Homo sapiens: one gene and its partners. The protein of the gene in region 3 interacts with the protein of the main gene of each other region in a pairwise test. Each region holds a gene or a part of one and is shown on either strand. Other genes may lie near its edges.

Evidence for each region.
Region 1: the proteins of ARRDC3 (region 3) and UBE2E3 interact in binary tests that used the Homo sapiens proteins (3 or more experiments, as listed by UniProt).
Region 2: the proteins of ARRDC3 (region 3) and ITGB4 interact in binary tests that used the Homo sapiens proteins (3 or more experiments, as listed by UniProt).

Annotation. Positions count from the first base shown.
Region 1 is NC_000002.12:180,983,267-180,991,206, reverse strand, and holds part of UBE2E3 (ubiquitin-conjugating enzyme E2 E3), read right to left. Parts: intron 7,165-7,940; coding exon 7,114-7,164; intron 3,870-7,113; coding exon of another isoform or gene 3,813-3,869; intron 1-3,812. UniProt on the Homo sapiens protein: Accepts ubiquitin from the E1 complex and catalyzes its covalent attachment to other proteins. In vitro catalyzes 'Lys-11'- and 'Lys-48'-, as well as 'Lys-63'-linked polyubiquitination.
Region 2 is NC_000017.11:75,731,121-75,739,060, forward strand, and holds part of ITGB4 (integrin beta-4 isoform 1 precursor), read left to right. Parts: intron 1-125; coding exon 126-248; intron 249-691; coding exon 692-853; intron 854-1,042; coding exon 1,043-1,119; intron 1,120-2,369; coding exon 2,370-2,572; intron 2,573-4,930; coding exon 4,931-5,034; intron 5,035-5,167; coding exon 5,168-5,266; intron 5,267-5,444; coding exon 5,445-5,574; intron 5,575-5,616; exon of another isoform or gene 5,617-6,101; intron 6,102-6,201; coding exon 6,202-6,324; intron 6,325-6,417; coding exon 6,418-6,524; intron 6,525-7,940. UniProt on the Homo sapiens protein: Integrin alpha-6/beta-4 is a receptor for laminin. Plays a critical structural role in the hemidesmosome of epithelial cells. Is required for the regulation of keratinocyte polarity and motility.
Region 3 is NC_000005.10:91,372,909-91,380,848, forward strand, and holds part of ARRDC3 (arrestin domain-containing protein 3), read right to left. Parts: exon of another isoform or gene 7,439-7,940; intron 7,190-7,438; exon of another isoform or gene 6,540-7,189; intron 5,868-6,539; coding exon 5,786-5,867; intron 3,861-5,785; coding exon 3,713-3,860; intron 2,706-3,712; coding exon 2,603-2,705; intron 2,271-2,602; coding exon 2,014-2,270; intron 1,369-2,013; coding exon 1,206-1,368; intron 969-1,205; exon of another isoform or gene 931-968; coding exon 776-930; intron 1-775. UniProt on the Homo sapiens protein: Adapter protein that plays a role in regulating cell-surface expression of adrenergic receptors and probably also other G protein-coupled receptors.

The sequences.
Region 1 (7,940 bases), on a different chromosome or scaffold from region 3:
ATAACTGCTTATCTACAATTCTAGAATCCCAAAACTCTGAAAAAAAAGAAAAAAAAATCAAAGGTTTTTTAATAAGGTTGTTACAAAATAATTTGGTAGCAACCCTAAATGTGAACTGACTTGAAACTATTTGTAGCTTCCACTTATTCCACCTGTATGAATATTAATACATTTTTGGTGTGGAAACAGTAATGTCGAGAAACATTACTGTGGAACAGATTACATAAAGTACCACAAACACATCATACTACCTTTCTAAAACATGAAACTTTCTGCATTCTGAAACACATCTGGCCCCAAGGGTTTCAAATAAAGGATTGTGAACTTGTAAAAATTGAAGTAACTTGTGTATTGTCATAATGATGAAAATAAAACCCAAATGAAGAGCACACATTTCTAACCTGTGTGTAATTCAATGTCAAACTGAATTTTGATGACTGTCCAATGTTATTTCTCCATGATGTTACTTTAGTACTCCTAGTAGAACATAATAGATATAACCAGCCTAAAGCTAGATCACGCAGGGATATAATTAACTGGCACAAGACCTAAAAGAAATAAAATACTGCTGTAAGCATTTCTGGCCTCAGAAGACCATAATTTAGCAAGTACTCAAGGTAGTCATTCCTGTGGTTTCACATAAAAAATAACACACACGTATGACAAATAATATAAGACATATGTAAACTACGCATAGAAGTAGCAGGAAGTGAAGAATCAGCTGAGGAAGGTGTAGGTGAATATATTAAGGATGCATCACTAATAAGACAGGAAAACAGTCAAAAGCAAACTATTCAAAAATTCAAGAGGCAAAGTACAGGAACAAATATCTATAGGAGGGTCTCTCAACTTCAGCACTAGACATTTTGGCCCAGATAATTCTTTATTGTGGGGGTCTGTCCTATGTATTACAGGGTATTCAGCAGTACCACTGACGTCTACCTACTAATGTCAGTGGTAGCCCCCTTCTCCTTCAGTTATGAAAAGCAAAAAATATCTCTGGGCATTACCAATTGTCGCCTAGCCTGGTGGCTGGGGAAGGGGAGGACAAAAATTGCCTCAGTTGAGAACCACTGATCAAAAGGCAAAAGAAAGGTTAAAAGTTTGAAGATGTTTCAGCTTCCAGATTCCAATTAAAATGCCCAAATATACTTACCTGTCAAAATTGGTATGTGGAAAAAAAAATCACTTTCTATTTCTCTAGATTTACAAGTGATTTTATTATGTTTTTATCTCATATTGATAGGGAAGAAGAGACTGAAAGGACAAGTTCTTCATTCTCAATCTGAATGTCCTTACACTCTATGCAAGACTTGCTGATTTTCCTGAAAAGTAAACATATCCATCTGTTGTTACAGCAACTCATTTAAGGAGAGCATAAAGTACTAATTGGTTATGAGAGGAATATGACTGGTTATGTGAGCATGTAGCTGCGAAGTAAACATATAACTTTTTTTAAAAGCACATGCTGTTTTACCCACCTTCTAATTACATTATCTGCATTGAACTTAATAGATCCTTAATAAAAATGTGAAGTTTAGTGGGAAGAATATTATTTTCAGTTGGTCACTCTTTTGGAAAATGTTTCCAGTCACACAGAGTACTGAGTATTTCTGCTACACTGGCACGTATGGAGGAAATAACTAGGCCTACTGTGAGTATCAATTTCCTCTTATAAGCAAAAACAGTAGCTAGGTAAACTTTGAATAGGTTATTAAATATTAAGTATCATAATTATGAAAAAGGTAAAGAATGTATAGGATATTTAATAAATTTTCTCTGAAGTCATTGTTTTGCCTGGAATTGCTATTTCTATGTCAATTTGAGAGACTTCAATTTATTTATTAACAGACCTTCACATGCAAAGCACCATGTGAAGTAAGGAAAAGATACAAAAATGAATGAGACAATCTCTCCATTCAAGGAACACTCGCTCTTGCAGAAAGCAGACAAATATTATAATACAGCATGAAAAAAGTACTTTATTACAGTTGTGTTGAAGAAACTATTAGCTTGTTGAAAAATAAAACGTCAATTTGCTTTGATCATAAACCATTTAAAATTATCACTAACGCCCAAGTCCCCAGAAAAACCCTCATGATTTTTGAGGTTTATGCTGATGCCAAAATGAATTTATTAACAATAAAACTAATAATACAAACTATCTGTAGATGACCACCCACGGCATAATGGGATGAAAAATACTTTGTCAGAGTAGTTCTGTATTTATCTGTTTTACAGTCGAGCTTCCAATTAAGATTTAATTTTTATAAAAAGCGGGTTCCAGGACCTTTTTTTTTGAAGAATTGAAAATAAAAGGACTAGATAACTAATGAGATACAATCTTGTAGCAAACACTAAAACAAAAACAATCAAATGTATTAAGTAAAGAAGAAAAAGCAGTCTATCTACATGTGTGAGAGAGTTTAAAACCAAGTACTCTATAAGCAACCAACAAAGCTAATATAGGGATCACATGTTATTTCAATTATTACCTGCTTTCATACGCCAATTAGAAAAAAGCTTTCAAAATTTCTCCTTAGTTCACAGACATGGAAAGAATGCTATGGGGTTAGGTAATGCAGGTAACAGCAATCCAGAATGTGAATTTTACAACTGCTGATATAATCCCATTCACAGTAAAATCACAAATTCTTCTATTTTAAAAGGGGAAAATATAATCATTACTCATCTAAAAATTGTTTATTATACTTTACTGGACAATCATAATATTCTCTATTGAATTAAATATCATTAATCTTATGCATGTTCCTTTAAAAGGAATACAATATTTGTTCATCTATGCCTGAAGTTTTTAGGCTAATTTTCTTTTTTACGCAAGTTCCTAGGAACTGCTTTTACTGACATTAAAAAACAAATTGCTTGTTATGTACTTGTACTCAATTATCTGGTGAACTGACTAAGATAAAATTACATAAGATGTCAATGCACTAGAGAAAATGCCAGCAACAGTGAGAGCACATCACTACAGGCTACACTGTCTCTCCCATTTTTATCTTGCTGTGGCCACTTTACTGACTCGATTTACACTGCTACAAAACTTAAACACATTAAGTCATTTAATCCTCACAATAACCCTATTATAAAGGGGGGTATCATTTTAATCCCCACTTTACAACTGAGGAGAAGAACCGAAATATTCCAAAATGTATCTAAGGTAATAACATAGCAAGTTAGTGACAGAGCATGGATCTGAAACCAGACAGTCTTGCTCCAGTACCAGCACTTTTCAAACCTACTTATATATACAATTCACCAGGAATCTTGTTAAATTCAAATTCTGGGTTGGGGGTTGGGGGAAGCAAGAGTCTGCATTTCTAACAACCTCATCTGTGACGCAGATGCTGACAGTCAGCAGCTCACTCTTTTAAGTAGCAAAGTTCTAGTCCGCCCTAGAAAATGATGGAAAGTGGTAGCAACCCTCAGAAGAAAGCAGAATTTATCCTCAGACAATTAGGCTAATGAGGAATCTAGAGATTATCAACTACTGGTTTAGAAACAACTGCTTCTTTTATGATTTCATTATTTTTTTATTTTTAAAGAAGAAAGTCAACGAAATCACCTGATCTCAGGTTTTGCTAGTCAATATATTAATACTATTAACTTGAAACTGTAATACATATCCCCCAATATGGCCTTTCCCACATCAAGAAACTATTTATTAATACAAATACCCCCAAATATCTCCAGTATAGATTCAATCTGAACATACACTCTTAAAATATTCGTCAGTATATTTGTGCTTCTTCCTATATGGAAAGAAATTAGGGGTTAAGTTAGAAATCCAGTACCTTTCTAAACTTTCGCTGTTTGCACAAGTGGTGACTAGGAGAGGACAAGGACACCCTCTGGGAAACAGATGGAAAGTAAATGTCTTAATAACACATCACTAAACAATTCTAGTCAACAATTCTCAATAAATACAAATAGGGAAATGCCCATAACACAATTTCCCTTGACTCTCATTGATGTATAAATTATTTATACTTTATGTAAACAGCATAAACTGAAACCAATAAATAAACATATCCCTATGTTTAGTACACTATGGCCCATGGCCCTCCAATACCTAAAACCATTTAAAATAACATCAAATCACTGGAAATAACGTCATTATCAAACTTTTACACTATCGGGAAAAGAAATATCAATGCTATCAAAATATATTAAAACATGTATAAAGCCATACACAATTCAATTAAATCTATCTTAAGATCACCCTGGGTATGTATGTACTAGACATAACTATATACTAATTAAAGAATATTTCATTAATTAAAACACAGGAAGGGATTTTAGAGAAATCATCCCAGTCTGAATAATTTTGGTTTTGCTGAGTTTTCTTGTGTTTCATTCAACTTTTTCCTGAATGTACACAGATATACTTTACATTTCTTCCCTGAGGAAGAATTAAATCTGTCATGTACTTTGACAAGCTTGTAAAAATCATATTCAAAACTGTAATGGAATTCTGATTAAATAACTACACACGAAAGCCAAATGTATTAGGTTTCATAGATCTCAGGCAATATGAATTCACATATTCTAGAATTTATGAATATAGATTCCATTTTTAATTATAGCATAAATTAATAAATTTAAACTGTACAATCACCGTAAAGCTAAAATTCTCATTTACGCACTTGTCAATTAAAAGAACATAACACCACAGTCTGTCACAGATCTGACATGAAGGCAAAAATACAATACAAATTCAGGCTTTTTATTTGTCAAAGTTCTAAAACACCTTTACTAAACACTCAGTATTCCAATTCCTACTCAAGGACAAAAACTAGGTCTTCTTCCACCCACAAGAATTTGAAGACAAAGTATCTGGATATTTTACATGTGAGGCATATGGTAAAACACTGCCTCCAAATAATAAGAAACCACTTATCCTGGTTCCCTACTAAGACATACTGTATGTCTGTTTTTCACATACCACAGCCACACATAAACTCATCTATTAAAAGAACCTGAGAACTGAAAGATGTCATTTGCAGCAGTTGATAGTCATCACAGGTTGTGACAAGGGAAAGCAGGGATGAGGTGTTCCATGTTACTGTTCACAGAAAGCCCAAAGTTTTGATGTTTCACTAGTCTGATCACTAAATGAGGAAGCATTATTTCAAGGACTTAAATGAAATCTGGTATATAAAGAGAAAGACAAGTGAAACCTCCTATCTCATTGAAAGATTCTACTCCCTCTAAAATAATCCTCAGTGACCTTGAGGAAACATTCCGGAGTTAAACATGTAAAGTAGATTTCTTTGGCAACTGCAACACTAGGCTATTGCTCTGAGGGCACTTAATACATGTCTACTAGGCTCTCTAGATTTATGCACGTACATTAGTTTGTTTCATTTGCAGACAATCAACAGAAACCTTTAAAAATGTTTGACCCTACATGCAATTTTAAAACATTTAAGAGTTCTGAATTGATAGATCTTTACATTTTTCATAATGGGAAATATCAGAATACACTCTGCAAGTTAAGTGATTCTTCCAGGGAGCAAATTTAACTTGACCTCCCTAAATGGCTACAGATTTGACACACCATTTAGAAGGCTGGAGGGAAAATACTTTCATTTACTTGTTCTCTAAAGCGGCACTGTTCAATAGAAATACAATGCAAGTCACATACGTAATTTTAAATATTCTAATAACATATTAACATAGTAAAAAAGTGAAATTAATTTTAACATTTTATATAGCCAAATATATCCAAAATATTATTTTAATATTAATGAACTTTTTTTAAGTCAATGCAGTATTATACATCCTTTTGTTGTACTAAGTTTTTAAAATCCAATGTGTATAAATTTTACCCTTATAGCACATCTCATTTTGGACTAGCCACAACTGAAGAGGCCAATAGCCACATGTGGCAAGTGGCTACATTACCGGACAGCATAGCTCTTAAGTAATACTTTGAGATCTCACATACCACCATCTCCTTAAAATTAGTTTACATTCATGTTTCCTGTTTGAACTGAAATTACAAATACAAGCAAACTGTTCATTCATCGGATAAATCAGGATCAAATCACCTTATCTGAGGATCCAGTTAACATACACAATAAGAAGCAACTGGATTATACCCTATTATATCACAAGCAGACTTCAGAGACAGGGTCTGATCATCCCAAGTGAATACAACTTGTAGCAAAAATACAGGTTAAACATGAAAACATTGTCCTATCAAACCATAAAACTGCCTAATTCCTTGCAGCCACTCGCATTATTGAGCACATATCTCTTCACAAACTATCTACAATATTGTTTTCTATGCGTGTTCAATTTTGTAAGCCATAGTCATTAAAAAAAGAATAGAGCGCTATACAAATGAAATGAAAAAAATTATTAGAGAAAAAATAATCAACCAGCTACTTTTAATGTATCTTATACCAACCAATAATCTTAAATTCATCTACCTGAGTTCCACTAAAATGAATTCCCACAATTCCAATTCATTTACTGCTTTTCATACACATATTCCAACCACCAAAATTACTAAAAATGTTCCCAAGCAATTAGGACATTTGCTTAAAACGTAAATAATTCCAACAATGCATTCTGTAGAAAACGACCACTAAAACCATTAGCTTAGCCCATAAAATTTGTCCTTAAGGCTAGTAACTGAATAAATCAAACAGAACCAACTATATGCTTATTTACTGCATTTACATTTTGTAACACCACATTCAGCAATTTCTAAATGTGGAAGGTCAGTTCAGATTGCACACACAAGCAGTAACTTTAAAGCTTAGCAAAATTTTAGAAGTTTCTTCAGTATACTTCTGAAAAAACACCCTCTACAGAAATACATCAGAACAAAAATCAGCACCATTCATATGAATATCAGAAGCACAAAATCAGTATATTCATAAATCCACAATGTATACTTATGCTAAAAAGTATTTTTTCTCCCAATTTTATCTAGTTCACCTTCTACAATTTTTGTTTAATGCACTTGCAAAGCTGTAAAGAAGCAAATGTTGTCTCCTCTGCTGCACACATATCCAGACAATACATCAATCTCTTGGTATTTTTCCACAATTTGAAACCAAAACAACAAAATTCATTTCTTACCTGCAATTAGGAGGAGGATCAAGGGTTATTTCAGCTAGCTCCTTCTGAATTCTGTTAGTGAAATGAGAAGAGACAAAAAGGATTTGATATAGTCTACAGAATAACCAGGGAATTACACTGCCCTCTACCACCATGCAGTTAAATGCAAGGCTGGCTCTGCCTTCAGTAATGCTAACATGGCTGCTTCCTCTTTGTTCTCAGAGGCATAACCCAAATCCCTTAACAGAAACTTTGCAGCTTTTTTTCTCACTTGCTGCTGCAAACAAGTAAGTCATTTACACTTGATTGGAGAAATACTCATCCACTAGTACTCAGTAAAGAATATAATATCTATTTCAAAACACTTTTTACCAAAGAAATTCTCTTTTCAAGCTTATATGCAAATGAGACAAAAAGGGAGGAGGGAAAGCACTGGAATATTTGACAAGGACTTGAAGTGACTTTTACTGAGGTAAAAATTAACAGGCTACTGCAAGAGCACATTAACAGTTCTGACAATATTTTATCTGTCAAAAAAAAAGTTTAAAATTTACAAATATCTTTACTTGTGAAAAACTTTCAAAGACTACTTGACATTCTAATTTAACCATTTCTGTTTTCCCTGATTTTAGGTACAGCACTTAAATTTAATAAACATTGAGAGAAAGAGGAGAAAATACATAGGCCTGAGTTAAGGGGGAGAAAAGCAGTTCTCTGATTTGATTCAAATTTAAGATGATTTCAAAACTTTAGATGTGTCTAATATGTTCCGCATCAACACTATACCAAATTGAGAATTTTAAATTATGTCAAAGACTGCTGCCATTCAAAAATATTATCAAGTTATT
Region 2 (7,940 bases), on a different chromosome or scaffold from region 3:
ACCTGGGCCTGGCCCTGGCTCCTGCAGGCTCTGTGATACCCCGCATGATGCCAGCCACACTTGGAGGTTGGGGTGGAGCACAGAGGCCCCCCACAGAGCACTGATCAACCTCCTTCCTCCTTTAGCGGATCCGCTCCAACCTGGACATCCGGGCCCTAGACAGCCCCCGAGGCCTTCGGACAGAGGTCACCTCCAAGATGTTCCAGAAGACGAGGACTGGGTCCTTTCACATCCGGCGGGGGGAAGTGGTACGCCTCTGTGGGGGCAGCGGGGTGGGGGATAGGCACAGCGCCCCACACCGAGTGGAATCGTTTAAAACAGCGGTCAAGAGCGTGGCCCCTGGAGTCAGGCAGGCCTGGGTGCAGATCCCTGGGCCTAGCCGCTCGGATGAGCCTAGGTTGCTCCTCTGCTTGTTGGTTTCCTCGGCATGCAAGCGTCGAGCCCGGAGGCTTGCTGGGGCAGTAAATGGGTTAGTGTCACGAAGCCCAGAGGCCCTGGCCACTGTCATTGTCGCTATGATTGTGACTGCGCTGGGAAGGAGGGAGTTTCCAGCCCTGAGGGAGGTGAGCAGGAGCTCATTTCAGGGATCCAGACATCTCCTAGGAACTTGGGGGCCGAGGGCCTTCAGGCATCGATGGCCCCCTGGTCCTTGGGGCTGGGCCTGCCTTGGCTGACCACGGGGCCCCTGCAGGGTATATACCAGGTGCAGCTGCGGGCCCTTGAGCACGTGGATGGGACGCACGTGTGCCAGCTGCCGGAGGACCAGAAGGGCAACATCCATCTGAAACCTTCCTTCTCCGACGGCCTCAAGATGGACGCGGGCATCATCTGTGATGTGTGCACCTGCGAGCTGGTACAACGCAGCCCCGCAGGGCGGGAGGGGAGAGCTGAGCCAAGCACCCAGGGACCCTGAGGAATGAAGCAGGACTCCTGTGCCCCATATCCCTTGTGGGGTTTCCCGAGGCACACAGGAGAGCGGAAGTGTCCAGTGGCCCCGGTCCTGCTCCCCCGACGCACCCCACCATGGTCTCTCTCATTCCAGCAAAAAGAGGTGCGGTCAGCTCGCTGCAGCTTCAACGGAGACTTCGTGTGCGGACAGTGTGTGTGCAGCGAGGGCTGGTGAGTGGGGAAGGGAGTTGGGCACCCAGGACACCAGTGGCCCCTGATGGGAAAGCTGGGCTCCTGCAGGGGCCTGGCCCTGGGTGCACCTTGTACACCTGGCTGGGGGTGGGGCGGCAATCAAAGAAACGGCTAAGGGCGGGGCACACCCAGTTGTTGGTCAAACCCAGGTCAAAGCACTTTGAAATACAGAGATATATGGGCTGTCTCTAGAAAGAGGTGTGAGGATTGAGACGGGGTTGGCTGTTGGGGCTGGGGTCTGGATCTTGGGGGACAGGCACACGAGGCTTCCTTTTTGCTCCATGCCTTTGGTATTCTGAGTCCTGTGTCATATTGCCTGATCAGAAGAGAGCTCGTAAATGCACGGCAGTAAGGGCTTTAGCTTCAGGACACTGGGCGAGCTTGCCACAACTTGAGGCAGAGCAGTGGGGAAAGGACACTGGAAGGGGTGACATGACAGGGCACTGGGGTTTAGGTCTCAGCTCAGCCACTTCTGTCTGCATGACTGGGAGCTGCCTCGGCCCTCTCAGAGCCTCAGTTTCCTCATCTGTAAAATGGGACAGCAGGCCAGGCGAGGTGGCTCACACCTGTAATCCCAGCACTTTGGGAGGCCGAGGTGGGTGGATCACCTGAGGTCAGGAGTTCAAGACCAGCCTGGCCAACATGGTGAAATCCCATCTCTACTAAAAATACAAAAAAGTAGCTGGGCGTGGTGGTGCATGCCTGTAATCCCAGCTACTCGGGAGGCTGAGGCAGAATTGCTTGCACCTAGAAGGCGGAGGTTGCCGTGAGCTGAGATCGCGCCACTGCACTCCAGCCTGGGCAAGAAGAGCGAAACTCTGTCTTGAAAAAAAATAAAATAAAATAGGCCAGGCGCGGTGGCTTACGCCTGTAATTTCAGCACTTTGGGAGGCCGAGGTGGGCGGATCACAAGGTCAGGAGATCGAGACCATCCTGGCTAACATGGTGAAACCCCGTCTACTAAAAATACAAAAAATTAGCCGGGCGTAGTGGCGGGTGCCTGTAGTCCCAGCTACTCAGGAGGCTGAGGCAGGAGAATGGCGTGAACCCAAGAGGCAGAGCTTGCAGTGAGCCAAGATCGCGCCACTGCACTCCAGCCTGGGCGACAAGGCGAGACTCCGTCTCAAAAAAAAAAATAAAATAATTAAATTAAATTAAATTAAATGGGACAGCAAAAGCCCCAGCTTTCCTCCTGGGCTGTTTCGGGGAATGACCAGTTCCTCCTTCAGGAGTGGCCAGACCTGCAACTGCTCCACCGGCTCTCTGAGTGACATTCAGCCCTGCCTGCGGGAGGGCGAGGACAAGCCGTGCTCCGGCCGTGGGGAGTGCCAGTGCGGGCACTGTGTGTGCTACGGCGAAGGCCGCTACGAGGGTCAGTTCTGCGAGTATGACAACTTCCAGTGTCCCCGCACTTCCGGGTTCCTCTGCAATGGTGAGCACAACAACTGCGGCCAATGCTGATGGCGGGGTAGGGAGTGGACAGCAAGCATGACTTTCCCGTCAGGACCCAGGTTGGGAGAGCCAGACTTGGAATCAGAATCCCCAAGTTCAGGCCCAGCCCACTCTGGATGCCCTGAGGGCCGCCCCTGAGTCCTGCCCCAACCTGGGCCTGACTTCCCTCATCTGTAACGTCCATGCCCAAGGTCACTGTTGGCAGGACTTTCCCCTGGTTTTAAGATTCCAACTCCCCTGAGGTTCTCTCTGGAAGTTCAGTTCTATGCCCACCCCACTTCTCCACACCCCTATCTCATTAGAGTGGGTGCCACCCAGCTCAGCCCTCCAATGGCTGGCAGGTATATGGCATTATGATCTTTCCTCTCTCCAAAGATGCTAAATTTCTGTGGGTTTTTTGTTGTTGTTGCTGCTGTTTTTTTTTTTTTTTTTTTTTTTTTTGAGACAGAGTTTCACTCTTGTCGCCCAGGCTGGAGTGCAATAGCACAATCTTGGCTCACTGCAACCTCTGCCTCCTGGGTTCAGGCGATTCTCCTGCCTCAGCCTCCCTAGTAGGTGGGACTATAGGCATGCACCACCATGCCCAGCTAATTTTGTATTTTTAGTAGAGACAGGGTTTCACCATGTTGGCCAGGCTGGTCTCGAACTCCTGACCTCAGGTGATCTGCCCGCCTCAGCCTCCCAAAGTACACATCTGTAATCACACCTGGGATTACAGGTGTGAGCCACTGAGCCCGGCCCAAAGATGCTAAATTTCTACCTGGAAGGCCTGGAGCTTCCTCTGTATTCCCATGGGTCCAGGCCATAGGCATACAGTCTGGCCAGGAACATCAGAGCTGGGCAGGATCACAGAACTCAGACAAGGGGACATAGGGAAGGATTGGTAGTTGAATGGAGGAGGATGAATGAAAATCTACTCATCAAATACTTATGAAGCCCTCACTGTATACTTTCCAAGCCCCTGCTTTTCTACTCTTTCTTCTGTTCTTGCTTTTGTTCACCATTTCTTCTCTTCGACTGTCTGTCCCTGAGTGTGCTCAGAGAAACAGAAGAGAGAACTGGGCACCACTGGAGAAAGGCAGACAAGTGGCACAGAGGGAGGTATGAGAGAGGAAGGGAGGAAGGTGCCTCTGGGGAAGGAGGCAGGGCCAGAGTACAAAGGGCTTCGGTTCTAGTCCAGAGCAGGACTTCATCCTTTGGACAAAAGGGGGTCACTGGAGGTTTTACTTTCATTTTCTAACTATTTGCATATTAACCTTGTATCTAGTCACCTTGCTAAACGCACTTATGAAATCTAATAATTTGTCTGTAGATTCTTCTGGATACTTTGTGACATGTTCCTCACACTTGCAAATAAAGACAATTTTATTGATTGATTGATTGATTGATTTTTGAGACGGAGTCTTGCTCTGTCACCCAGGCTAGAGTGCAGTGGCATGATCTCAGCTCACTACAACCTCTGCCTCCCAGGTTCAAGCAATTCTCCTGCCTCAGCCTCCCAAGAAGCTGGGATTACAGGGGCCCACCACCAAGCCCAGCTAATTTTTGTATTTTTAGTGGAAATAGAGTTTCACCATGTTGGCCAGGCTGGTCTTGAACTCCTGAGCTCAAGTGATCCTCCCGCCTCGGCCTCCCAAAGTGTGGGATTACAGGTGTGAGCCACCACGCCCGGCTGACAGTTTTATTTCTTTTTTCTTTTCTTTTTTTTTTTTTTTTTTTGAGACGGAGTCTTGCTCTGTCACCAGGCTGGAGTGCAGTGGCGTGATCTCGGCTCACTGCAACCTCTACCTCCCGGGTTCAAGTGATTCTCCTGCCTCAGCCTCCTGAGTAACTGGGACTACAGGCATGCGCCACCATGACCAGCTAATTTTTGTATTTTTAGTAGAGACGAGGTTTCTCCATGTTGGCCAGGATGGTCTCAGTCTCTTGACCTTGTGATCTGCCCGCCTCAGCCTCCCAAAGTGCTGGGATTACAGGCGTGAGCCACCTTGCCTGGACTTATTTCTTACCTTCTAATGCTTATACATCTTATTTCTTTTTCTGACCTTATTGCATTGGCAGGGACCCATTAGAGGTTCTTAGCCAGGGGAGCAGGAGCCACATGATTGGATTTGTTTTGAGATAATTACTCAGGCTGCAGAGTGGAAGGTAGGTAGGATGGAGGCAGAGATGGAGGGAAGGAGATTCCAGGAAAGTGAGGAAGAGATGACTTCTACCCCAGGCTAGCGGCACCCTGGCTCCCACAGCTCTGTTCCCACAGGCCCTCCCTGCCAGGTGGGCAGCCTGGACTACAGGCACAGATGTAGCTCTCATCTCCCTTCCTTGTCCCTCTCTGCAGACCGAGGACGCTGCTCCATGGGCCAGTGTGTGTGTGAGCCTGGTTGGACAGGCCCAAGCTGTGACTGTCCCCTCAGCAATGCCACCTGCATCGACAGCAATGGGGTAGGCCTGGGCATAAGACAGACAGTGTCTGTCAGCACCACCCACCCTCTCCAGAGAGAACCCTATGGAGAGAGGAGAGGGAGCAGGCAGGGATGGGGCACAGCTGGCTCACTGGTGCCCCCTCCTACCCCAGGGCATCTGTAATGGACGTGGCCACTGTGAGTGTGGCCGCTGCCACTGCCACCAGCAGTCGCTCTACACGGACACCATCTGCGAGATCAACTACTCGGCGGTGAGGCTAAGACCTACGAGGTGTGGGCGTGGGAACAGGGCAGGCACAGGGCAGTGTGGGCAGGAGGGGCTAAGCCTGATGCCACAGGAGCTGGCCAAGGGCAAGAGGTTTGGGGAGCGGGGGTCTGGCAGAGGCCCACCCAACACAGTGCCTGTCTGCCCCGCCTTTCCCCGCCAAGATCCACCCGGGCCTCTGCGAGGACCTACGCTCCTGCGTGCAGTGCCAGGCGTGGGGCACCGGCGAGAAGAAGGGGCGCACGTGTGAGGAATGCAACTTCAAGGTCAAGATGGTGGACGAGCTTAAGAGAGGTAGGGGCAGGGGCTGAGGGTTGGGGTTGCTGAGAGCCTAGGCAGCGGGCATCCAACGGGGCAAGGGTGTCATCACCTGGACGGGGGCTTGCAGTCTGGGCTAAGGTCACACAGTCCGGACAGGAACTCCAGAGCTGGGAGGGACCACAGAACCCAGATAGAGGACACCGAATCCCAGAAAAGGGTAAAAGCCTGAGCAGGAGGCACAGAACCCAGGCGGTGGGACACAGTCTGGCCCAGGAAGGGACCAAGAGTCTTGGTGGGAGGCACCTGACTTGGGCAGGGGCATGCACCCAGCAGGGGTACATGGTCACGCTGTGGAGACACGCAGCCTCCCCTCCTCGAGATCAGATACGTTTTCTGGACCCTGAGTTCCTGGGTGATGTCCAGGTCAGGGAAGTGGGGGAGGTAGGTTTCTAGGCTCTGATGCTCCTGAGCAGGGGAGCCCCCACCACACCCGTTCCTGTGCCTGGTGAGAGCACGGCTTTGCAAGGACTTCCACTCTTCCCCAGGAGGCCCTGCCGTGGGTGAGGCAGATCGCAGAGTAGGGGCCCCCTCACCAGACCCTGGGTCCTCTGGGGCGGAGGGGTGTGGCTGGGGTGCCCTGCTGACTGGCTGTGGGTACAGCCGAGGAGGTGGTGGTGCGCTGCTCCTTCCGGGACGAGGATGACGACTGCACCTACAGCTACACCATGGAAGGTGACGGCGCCCCTGGGCCCAACAGCACTGTCCTGGTGCACAAGAAGAAGGGTGAGCTGGTGGGGCCGGGCGCAGGGAGGGGGCGTGTGGCCAGAGCTCGGTGGGGAGGACAGGCACCACCTCCCCCTGCCTCCTCCTCTCCAGACTGCCCTCCGGGCTCCTTCTGGTGGCTCATCCCCCTGCTCCTCCTCCTCCTGCCGCTCCTGGCCCTGCTACTGCTGCTATGCTGGAAGTACTGTGCCTGCTGCAAGGTGAGCACCCAGGGTGCCTCCCAAGGCCCCACATCCCAGGGTCCCCACCCCAACAGGGCCCCCACCCTCCACCAGGGTCCCCAGTCCCCGCCTGAGTTCTCATCTCCCCAGGGTCCCCAACCCCTTCCTGGGTCCCCACCTCCCCAGGGTCCCCATCCCAACAGGGTCCCCATCCTCCACCACGGTCCCCACCTCCCCAGTGTCCTCAACCCCCTCCTGGGTCCCCACCTCACCAGGGTCCCCTCTCTGACAGGGTCTCCACCCTCCATCAGGGTCCTCCTCAGGGTCCCCAACCCCCACCAGGGTCCCCAGCCTCTCCACCCACCATCCCCACTCCTGCAGCTTTCTAGCCAGAGGCTTCAGCCCGTAGAGTCCAGCTGTCTGGATTCTGGTCCCAGCTCTGTGACCTTGGGCAAATTACTTAATCTCTCCATGCCTCAGTTCCCTCATCTGTAAAATGAAGATCATAGAATTGACCTCAGAAAGTGGAGCTGAAGCTTAAATTAGTGAAGTTCAGAAGGGACTGACCCATAGCATGCACCATCGCCCCCACCCCCACCTTGGCAAGACCCACACCAACCCCATCCAGCTTCCGGAGTGACAGTAATGATGATGACACCCATGAGCTCTTAGCCCGAGTCATCCTGGAGCCCCAGCCCCCAGCTCAGCCCTTGCCAGCATCCGTTCTCTGCTTAGCTCAGTGTTCCTCTTTGTGCTGTCGCCACAGCATGTCCACGTGACTCCATTTCCCCGCCCCCCATCACCCCATGAGGTCAGTGGGGCAAGGTCACCATGCCCTATGACAGATGGAGAAATTGGGGCTGAGAGGCAGGTGATAAATGCACAGTCCTCAGAAGGGGCTGAGGCAAGCTGAGCCCACATCTTCCCCAGCTCTAGTGCCCGCCCAGGACCCCCACTCCATCAGCCATCAGTGGCCAGATCCCTGAGAGCACCTGCTCTGGGGTCAGCCACGTGCAAAAGGCCTGGGAGCCACAACAGGGAAGAAAGGGCCCTGCCCGCCCGCAGCTGGCGGTCACTGGGGAGAACAGACAAGAGAAAGCGTGGAGGATGGCATAGCTCAGAGTAGGGATTGTAGGCGGCAGACCACACTCCGTAGTAACCCCCAGTGTTGTGGGATATTAATGTGCATTACATAGGCAAGGAGTTATGTGATCAAATAGGTTTGAGCTAGGCACGGCTGCGCGTGCCTGTAGTCCCAGCTACTCAGAAAGCTGAGGCAGGAGGATCACGAGTCTGGGAGTTTGAGGCTACAGTGAGCTATGATTATGCCACTGCACTCCAGCCTGGGTGACAGAGTGAGACTCAAAAAGAAAAAAAAAAAGAAGGTTTAAGAAACAAGTTTCTTAAATTTAAGTTACAGTGGCTCACACTTGTAACCCCAGCACTTTGGGAGGC
Region 3 (7,940 bases):
CTCTGAAATATCCTGAAATTACTGGACACCCCACCTACTCACTCCTTGTCTTTACATACACTGTTCTTCCTGCCTTTTGAGGACTACTCATTCTTCAAAATTCAGCTTAATAGTCACCTTTTCAAGAAGCCCCACCTGATGCCCAAGACCTAATAAGCTGCTTCTCAAATGAGCTGTGCATTTTATCACATTATTACATAATATTTTGCTTCTTAGCTTGTTTTCCTCAGTAATCTGTGGGTTTCTCCTAAGGGCCATGTTTTATTTACATTTAAGTGCTTAGCTGCCATCAATATGAGATGAACGAAAATAGTCTAACCATGTGGGAATGTTGTTTTAAGATGTTATCACAAATACATTATTTCTTATGACTGAGAATGTCAAAATATGCAATTGGAAAAGCATCATGAATAAGATAAATTCTACTATTTAATCAGTGTTTGCAAAATGCTAGTTCTTCCTATTGATGCTTGGATATACAAAATTCTTCCTTCAAAAAATGTGTCTCAAGATAAAAGTTTAAGAGAAAAAAAAATTAGTAATTCAACATGAGGTTAGATCATTATCTTAATTCCCTAATAAGTGAACAGTCCTACCTCTGCATCAAACTTAGTAAATATTGATGAACCTAATATTAACTTTTAATCTGTTGTTTTAAATTATTTGTTCTGTTAACATGATAATCAAGATCTAATAACATTAAGAAAAAAAAATGCCTGCAATGCTATTTCCCAAGATAGCCAGTTCATTTCATACTTAAGGAGTAGGTACTTACCTCTGAATAAAGAGGTGGAGGCAAGAATCGAAACTCCTGGATATATGCAAACAGTGGTCCTTGAAGGGCTCTCTCAAAGTCATCACAAGCACTCACTGGTGCAAGATTGTTCCGCCTTTGTTCCTCTGTTACCACTTCTGCATAGCTGGGTGGTGCTGAAGGAAAAAGATACACGCAATTCGAACAGCATGTTCTTATGCATGTCAAAATACACAGAATAGTAGGTATTAAAAAGCAACGTCAAGGTAAAATAATTATTGTTTGGTGATCAAAACTATGAAGACATATAATCAAAACTGAATATTAGGGGCACATCTACTTTCTTTAGGAAAAGATTATGTTCATCTAGGGTCATAAAATATCAGAGGCAAAATAATTTTCTTGATAATAGTAGTAAGAGATTAAGCTTAGACGTGTATTATCAAATTACCTTCAGGTCTTTCAGGAAGTGATAAACTGAGCCAGTTCATATTCATGCTACACTGACTGCTTACACTTGAGGTTCTGCTACCAAATGGATGTAGAGGAATGGTACCGATGACAAGTGGCAAATTAAGAAATAAATCCATAGCTCCAGGAATATCCACATATACCTAAACATTGCAAAGAAATATTAAGTTTAGAATGCCAAGTATGATTTCCTTTTCAAAAACTCATAACCAATTTTAATGTTATTTGAAACCCCCATTTACTTCATTTTTAAACTTACATACATGAAAAGTTTCTCTTTTATGTATAATTCTGTATAGTACATTTACATATAAGGTATAATTGTAAGTCAAACTATATAAAGAGTTATGTATTTTATATGTCACTATATATGGAATTTAAAAAAATCAAATCCTGGATGTAAGACAAAACTATGTCATAACTTTAAGACTTAAAAACAAAACAAAAAAAAACACCAAAAACCTCTTGGGCCAGGCACTGTGGCTCATGCCTATAATTCCAACATTTTGGGAGGCCATGGTGGATGGATCACTTGAGCCCAGGAGTTCAAGACCAACCTGGGCGACATGGTCAAACTCCATCACTACAAAAAATACAAAAATTATCCAGGCATGGCTATAGGCACACCTGTAGTCCCAACTACTTGGGAGCTGAGGTGGGAGGATCACTGGAGCCCAGAAAGCAGAGGCTGTAGCGGAGCTGAGACTGTGCCACTGCATTCCAGCCTGGGTGACAGGTGTTTCAAAAAAGAAAAAAGAAAGGAAAAAACCTCTTAAATGTGTACATACCATTAGTGAATATTCCACGCGGATTATACTACAGTCGAGGATAGAGGGAGAAACTGGTGGAATTTTCAGCAACTTGCCATTCCACGTCTCTGTCTTTCCAGATGATAAGGATTCCCCACGCAAGTTAGCCACAAGCTGTTTTACTTCCTTCATTTTCCCTTTGGCATAGAAGGCCTGTGTTTGGTAAATGGCTGCCTTTGGCACCACCATTCGGGAAGAGCAGTTCTCAATCTCAGCAAATATCTGAATTGATTCACCTAGAGAGGGAAAAATATATACATATCTACTGTTAGAAAAAAACAACAAAAGAAGTCAAGATTCTTAAAGCTAAAGTAAGAAAGTGCAACTAACATACATGAAAAGATGTCCCAGGAACTGCAAATAACTTGAGTCATAGAAATGAACTAATCAGTAGCTATTTGAAAAAGGAAACTACATTCTACTTTGTGAAAAAAACAAATGGATAAGCACAATTTGTTATTTCACAAAAGAATACTATATTATGTTTATATTTAGTAGTCATATTATAAATTTAAACACAAAAGCTAAGTGAAGAAAAGTTTTTTGTGGGAATCTACCTCTTACATACCTGGGGTATAGCCCTTCCTTTCAATTTTGGCACTTAAGGATATTGGGCCTGAGGTACAGAACCAGCAACAGAGTGTCTTTTCTTTTGTGCCTGCTTGGGGTGACTGTAAGAAAAAAATTAAGAGAAAAAGGTCAGTGTATGGATTGGTACAATCAATACCAGAATATTTTAAAATATAACCCTAAATTTATGGAAAATTAAAAATTACAACTGGTTTTGCTTTTTTTTTGTATCCAGACATACTTCTTATTTTTTAACTAACCGATGGTTTTGAATTATACCATTACTTTTATTTTCATATAAATTTCCATTCAATTAGAAAAAAAAGGTAAAGGGTTTACAGCCTATCCCATAAACATAGTTTTTTAGCTCACACTATTTACAAATATAGTAATCAAAAACCAACCAAATAAAAAAAACCCTTTCCACATTCCATTTAAACTGCCTTAAAAAGGCAGCAAAGAAAGCAATCTGATTATAATTCCAAATGTTAACATCTTTCTCTGAGACTATTAAAAAATCAATATGTAAAAAAGGAAAATGCCCATTTCTTATGTGCTTTAAAGATGTTACCATTTGTTTAAATCAAATAAAGTTTTAAGTCAAATTTGAATTATTTTCAGACAAATGCAATTAAAAATAGATTTCTTTAAAAAAGGAGTTTTTTAATGAAACTAATGATTCCCCATTATTTGACAACTATCCCTCTATTGGAATAACAAAGTATAGTACAAATTTTAGATTATGATATTGTCAAGTAAGTGATATTGTATTATAATAAAAGATACTACTGCTCTTCTTCCACTCAAATCATCCAAGGACCAGATCTGTTTTTTGTTATGGCTGTCATACTCTGAGTAAGAGATACTTCATATCATATACTGGTCTTAGTTTTATATTTACTTAAAGGTATACTACAATGTCAAAAATATGAGCATATTTTTCATTAATTTCAGTGTTCTTGACTGTATTTAAGAAAATGTATATTTATGAAATTTTAAAAGAAAACCAGTATTTTTAAATTATGACAACTGCATAGTTTAGGTGATTGATTATTCTTTAATATTTATATGCCAAAAACAAAGAATAAATAATTCAGTCAATTCTTACCAGTAATGAAGGAGTGTTGATATCTATATGCTCAAAGACTGTAAATTCCTTCTTTAATTTTACTGGTAGTAGCCAAGGCCTGTGCAATTCGGCTTTCACCCAATAGCGCACACTGCCATGTCGGCCTTCGAATGAGGTAGCGAGTGGTCTGTGCAGAATATAAAGGTCAATATATTAATTTTATACCTCTTTCTAACAATTACACAGTAGGTCAGAATAGAAGTGTTAATATATTGTATTGTTTATGTTCCAATGAGGTATCAAACATATAATTTAAAAAATTTCCAAAGGGATAAGTCACTGGGGAAAAAACTTCCTATTTCCAACTAAGAATAAACAATAAATATCTTTAAAATTTTGCTTTAAAAAGCCAGAAGAATACAATCCATTTAAACTAAGAGGAGGCTACTTTTAATGATGGTGGCAAAATCATGAAAGTTTAATGGGCATTTTTTGAAAAGGCCAAGAATTCAAACACAAAGTTGAGAATGGTTTAACTATTTCTACTGATAAATTCTAGACACTGGTTAAACATTCAGACCAAATTCCCTATAGTACTCCACTTCTCATTAGCCGGGAATTATCATCTTTTAATAGCAACTAACTAAGGTCTAGAAAAGGCCTGGAATAGTCATTATAGTTTCAAAAATTTCACATTTCCTAAGTTTACTGAAAAACTACTTTTGTATCTCTCAGTTTACTCATGTTCTAATTCTTGTTTGGCTGTTCTCTAACTTTACGGGCTTCAAAAGAAAAAGATATAGTCCTCTTGATCTATGTCAAGAGAATAAAAAAAAATTTTTTTTAACTCTGTCAGATTTTACTTGTGGAAGGTTTTATTTTAGCAAGTTCAGTATCTTTTTCATAATTTCATTAGTAAAATACTCAATGTTCAGTTATTTACAAGAGTGCTAGCTTAGATTAGCATAAGAAACACTGGTGTTTTCATAATTTTTTTTTTTTTTTGCATTTTAGACTCCCACATTAACTTGTATAGCAGAGAAATAAAATCTTAAACTGTATGCTAATAGTTATCCAAAATTTATGTTAAATGACTTTGGTTTATGGATAGAACTTTAACATTAAATGACGCTGAAAATACTCAGGCCCCATATTGGCCTTATTCTATCAACAGACTTTAATATTTTTCTCAGAAATTAGATGAGGGCATTATATTCCAAATAAAATTCTCAAATAATACAGTAAATAGAATTTTCTAAAAAATACCATTTATGACTTCTCTCTCTATATATAACATCTCAAGCACTAGAATTAACAAATGCAGAATTAATGTACATTTGTCACCTGACAAAATCTTATGTAATCTGTTTATTCTCCAGAATAATCACCACAAGTGCCATTTTGCAGGTTTTAATATTTGTTAAAAGGCATTTTTTTTTAAAAAGTTTGTATCATCTCTTCCAACAATCTGTCATTACTTTAAGAATATACCACTTTCCTTTTTCCTTTCTTACTAGATTCCAAGTTTTATATTAATGTATCCTTGATGCATGTTTCCTTTTAAGCCTGGGTCATATCTCTTGTGTGACCTTCCCAATAGTTCTTTGTACAGAAGCTATTAAGTTCATATCAGAAGAAAAACATTTCTAAAGTTAGGATATTCCTAATTATTTTTATTTTCGAAACTTACTGCTATTGGTTAGTATTAGCAGAAAAAGTAGAATATAGAATTTTTTATAAATTGAAGCTACTAAGACTTGATAGGGTCTATCTTTTCTCATAATGATAATTGATAATAAACTAAGTATAAAGTGGTTATTATTCGACTAGCAACTTCCAATTCACTCATGTTAAAGGAAACCCTATTCCTATTTTAAAAACCTCATAAACTTTAGGAAAGAATACTGAAAATTGAGTATGCTTTCTATAATTTTGCCACGCTAGATTAAAAAATAGCTTCTTATGTTTAATATATTGTTTTCCTCTAGCAAGTTTCAGTAATGAAAAGGGTTTTTTTTTCAACTAAAAATGTTTAAATTTAGAATACTTAATTTTAAAATAATGCTCTGATCATAAGTATCTATAAAAATGCCTATTATTTATAATACTTACGTCTGTGGAAGCTCGAAGCTGAATGCATATTCATGCCTTCCTGAATGAATAGTGTGGAAGCCTTCTTCGGAATTATCATCATCTAAAACAAACATAAAAAGAAAACAAAGAATTTATTATTCAACATTTACATACTCCGCAGGGTGGCATAACTTTAAAGATGCTTACATAACAATTAAGACCACAAAACAAGCTTTGGAGTCTGAGAGATCTGAGTTCTAATTCTAACTTCATCATTTCCTCTGGACAAAATAAAAATCCTGTCGTCAGCTGCCTTATCTGTAAAATGGGGATAATGAATACTCACACCCCACAGGCTTTTTATTTTTTCTAATGGAAAATGACCCAAACTGCAAAGCATCTGTTTATAAAATAGTATATATACTCAAAAGGCTCGGGTCTCACATCATGGTAAGACAATGCTATCCTTTGTCTCCAACGGTTTGCTTAAATTTATCACATTAAGACTATAATGTATCAAAGAAAAACTGTTCATGCAACCCTCTTAAAATATGTCAGTTTATAGGGAATAATAATACCAGATGTGAATAGAATAGATACTCCAAAACCACTAGAAAACCTTGTCAAATAGACGGAGTAAAAAAAAAAAAAAAAAAAGCCACACATTGATTTTAATGTCAGATTTATAACTAAAAATAATTATTTATTGAACTAAAAATAATTATTTATTGATCTAAAATGATCACAACACTCAGTTGGTCCTAGCAACGACTAAAACTTGCATAAACTATACCTTAGATAATTACAAAGAACCGCATTTAGGTGGTGTCGGCTTATAAGGAAACAATATTTTCCAACATCCTTGAAAAAAATGAAGTCTAACTATTAATAGTTTCCAGTTTCTATAAAAAAGGGATGACCTTTCATTTTACAACCAATTTTTTTGGTGAAATTATTTTTTTTCAAGTGGCATGAAAATAAATATAATCGAAAATATGGGAGGGGGTTCTAGATCATTAAAGTGCCTATTTAGCGTTTTAAATAATTACAGAAATATCTTTTAAAGTTTTCTTGGTGTAGAAACCTTTACGATTAGCCCCCAGAGTAGAAAAAACTGGCACATTATTTAACTTTCCTTCAGCAAAGTATTGGATATACACAAAAAACGTGATGCCTCCCTGATATTAAACGAGAAAAAGGGGGAAAAAAGCATGTATACGTCGATACTTTCATTTAAAAATCATGGTGATTCGCTTATGTCTCCATACAATTTTCCTCGTCCCCTGTGCAAATTCCCCTGAACGGATTTCAGAACCAAAAACTAGCTGATGAGCTGGGGGCCATTTAAATTCGCTCCCCTCGAAGGCGCCCGAAGTTCGCCTTCCTTTCCCTTTCTTCCCTCTTCGCTCCCTTTTTGTGCCAGCTCAGCAGTCTCATTGAAGCGAGCGGCGGCGGCCGCGCCGTGGTAAACAAGTGCCGGGCTGTCAATCAAGAACTAGACCGGAGCAGGAGAGGACCGGCCTAAACCGGCGCGAGCAGATCCCAGCCGGCCTGCCCGCGCGCCGCCGCCGCCGCCGCTGCCGCCCGCGCGCCCCGCTATACATACGGCATACGTCGCGCGGCGCTCGCGCCCGTGCCCGCGCAACCTAGCCTGCTGGCCGGGGGGCGGGGCGAGCGAGCCGCGGCGCTTCCGCTTTACACGCCCCAGCCGGCGACCGGTTCCATCTGGCTCGGGCCACTCTGACACCTTTAGTTTCGGCAAGGGATATTGGGGTGGCGAAGGGGAGGCGGGGGCCCGAAGGCTTCGGAAAACGATGGGGGAGGGGGCAGAGGATACCCGTCGAAGCCCCCCCCTCCCCCAACATTTCGATATTGGAATCACTTTCCTTCTTCCTCGGGCCAGCCTTTGCTCTGTCCCCTCAGGTCAACTCAAGGTAGACAGTGTGGCGACTGGAGAGGTCGGGGAACAAGCTTTGTTTCAGCTAAGGGGAAAACAAGCGTTCACAGGAGTCCCCTGACACCTCCCACTCGGAAGATAGCTAACGGGGGTCCTGCCAACCCTTCCCATCCAACTTCCATCTGAAAAGGATTTTCTGCTAAAGTTGGGTCCATGGCCATCCAGCACCTGTAAGGCCGGCAGGAGCGTCTGCCCTCTACTCAGTTAAAGCCTGAAGTCGTTTCCTTTCGATGGCCC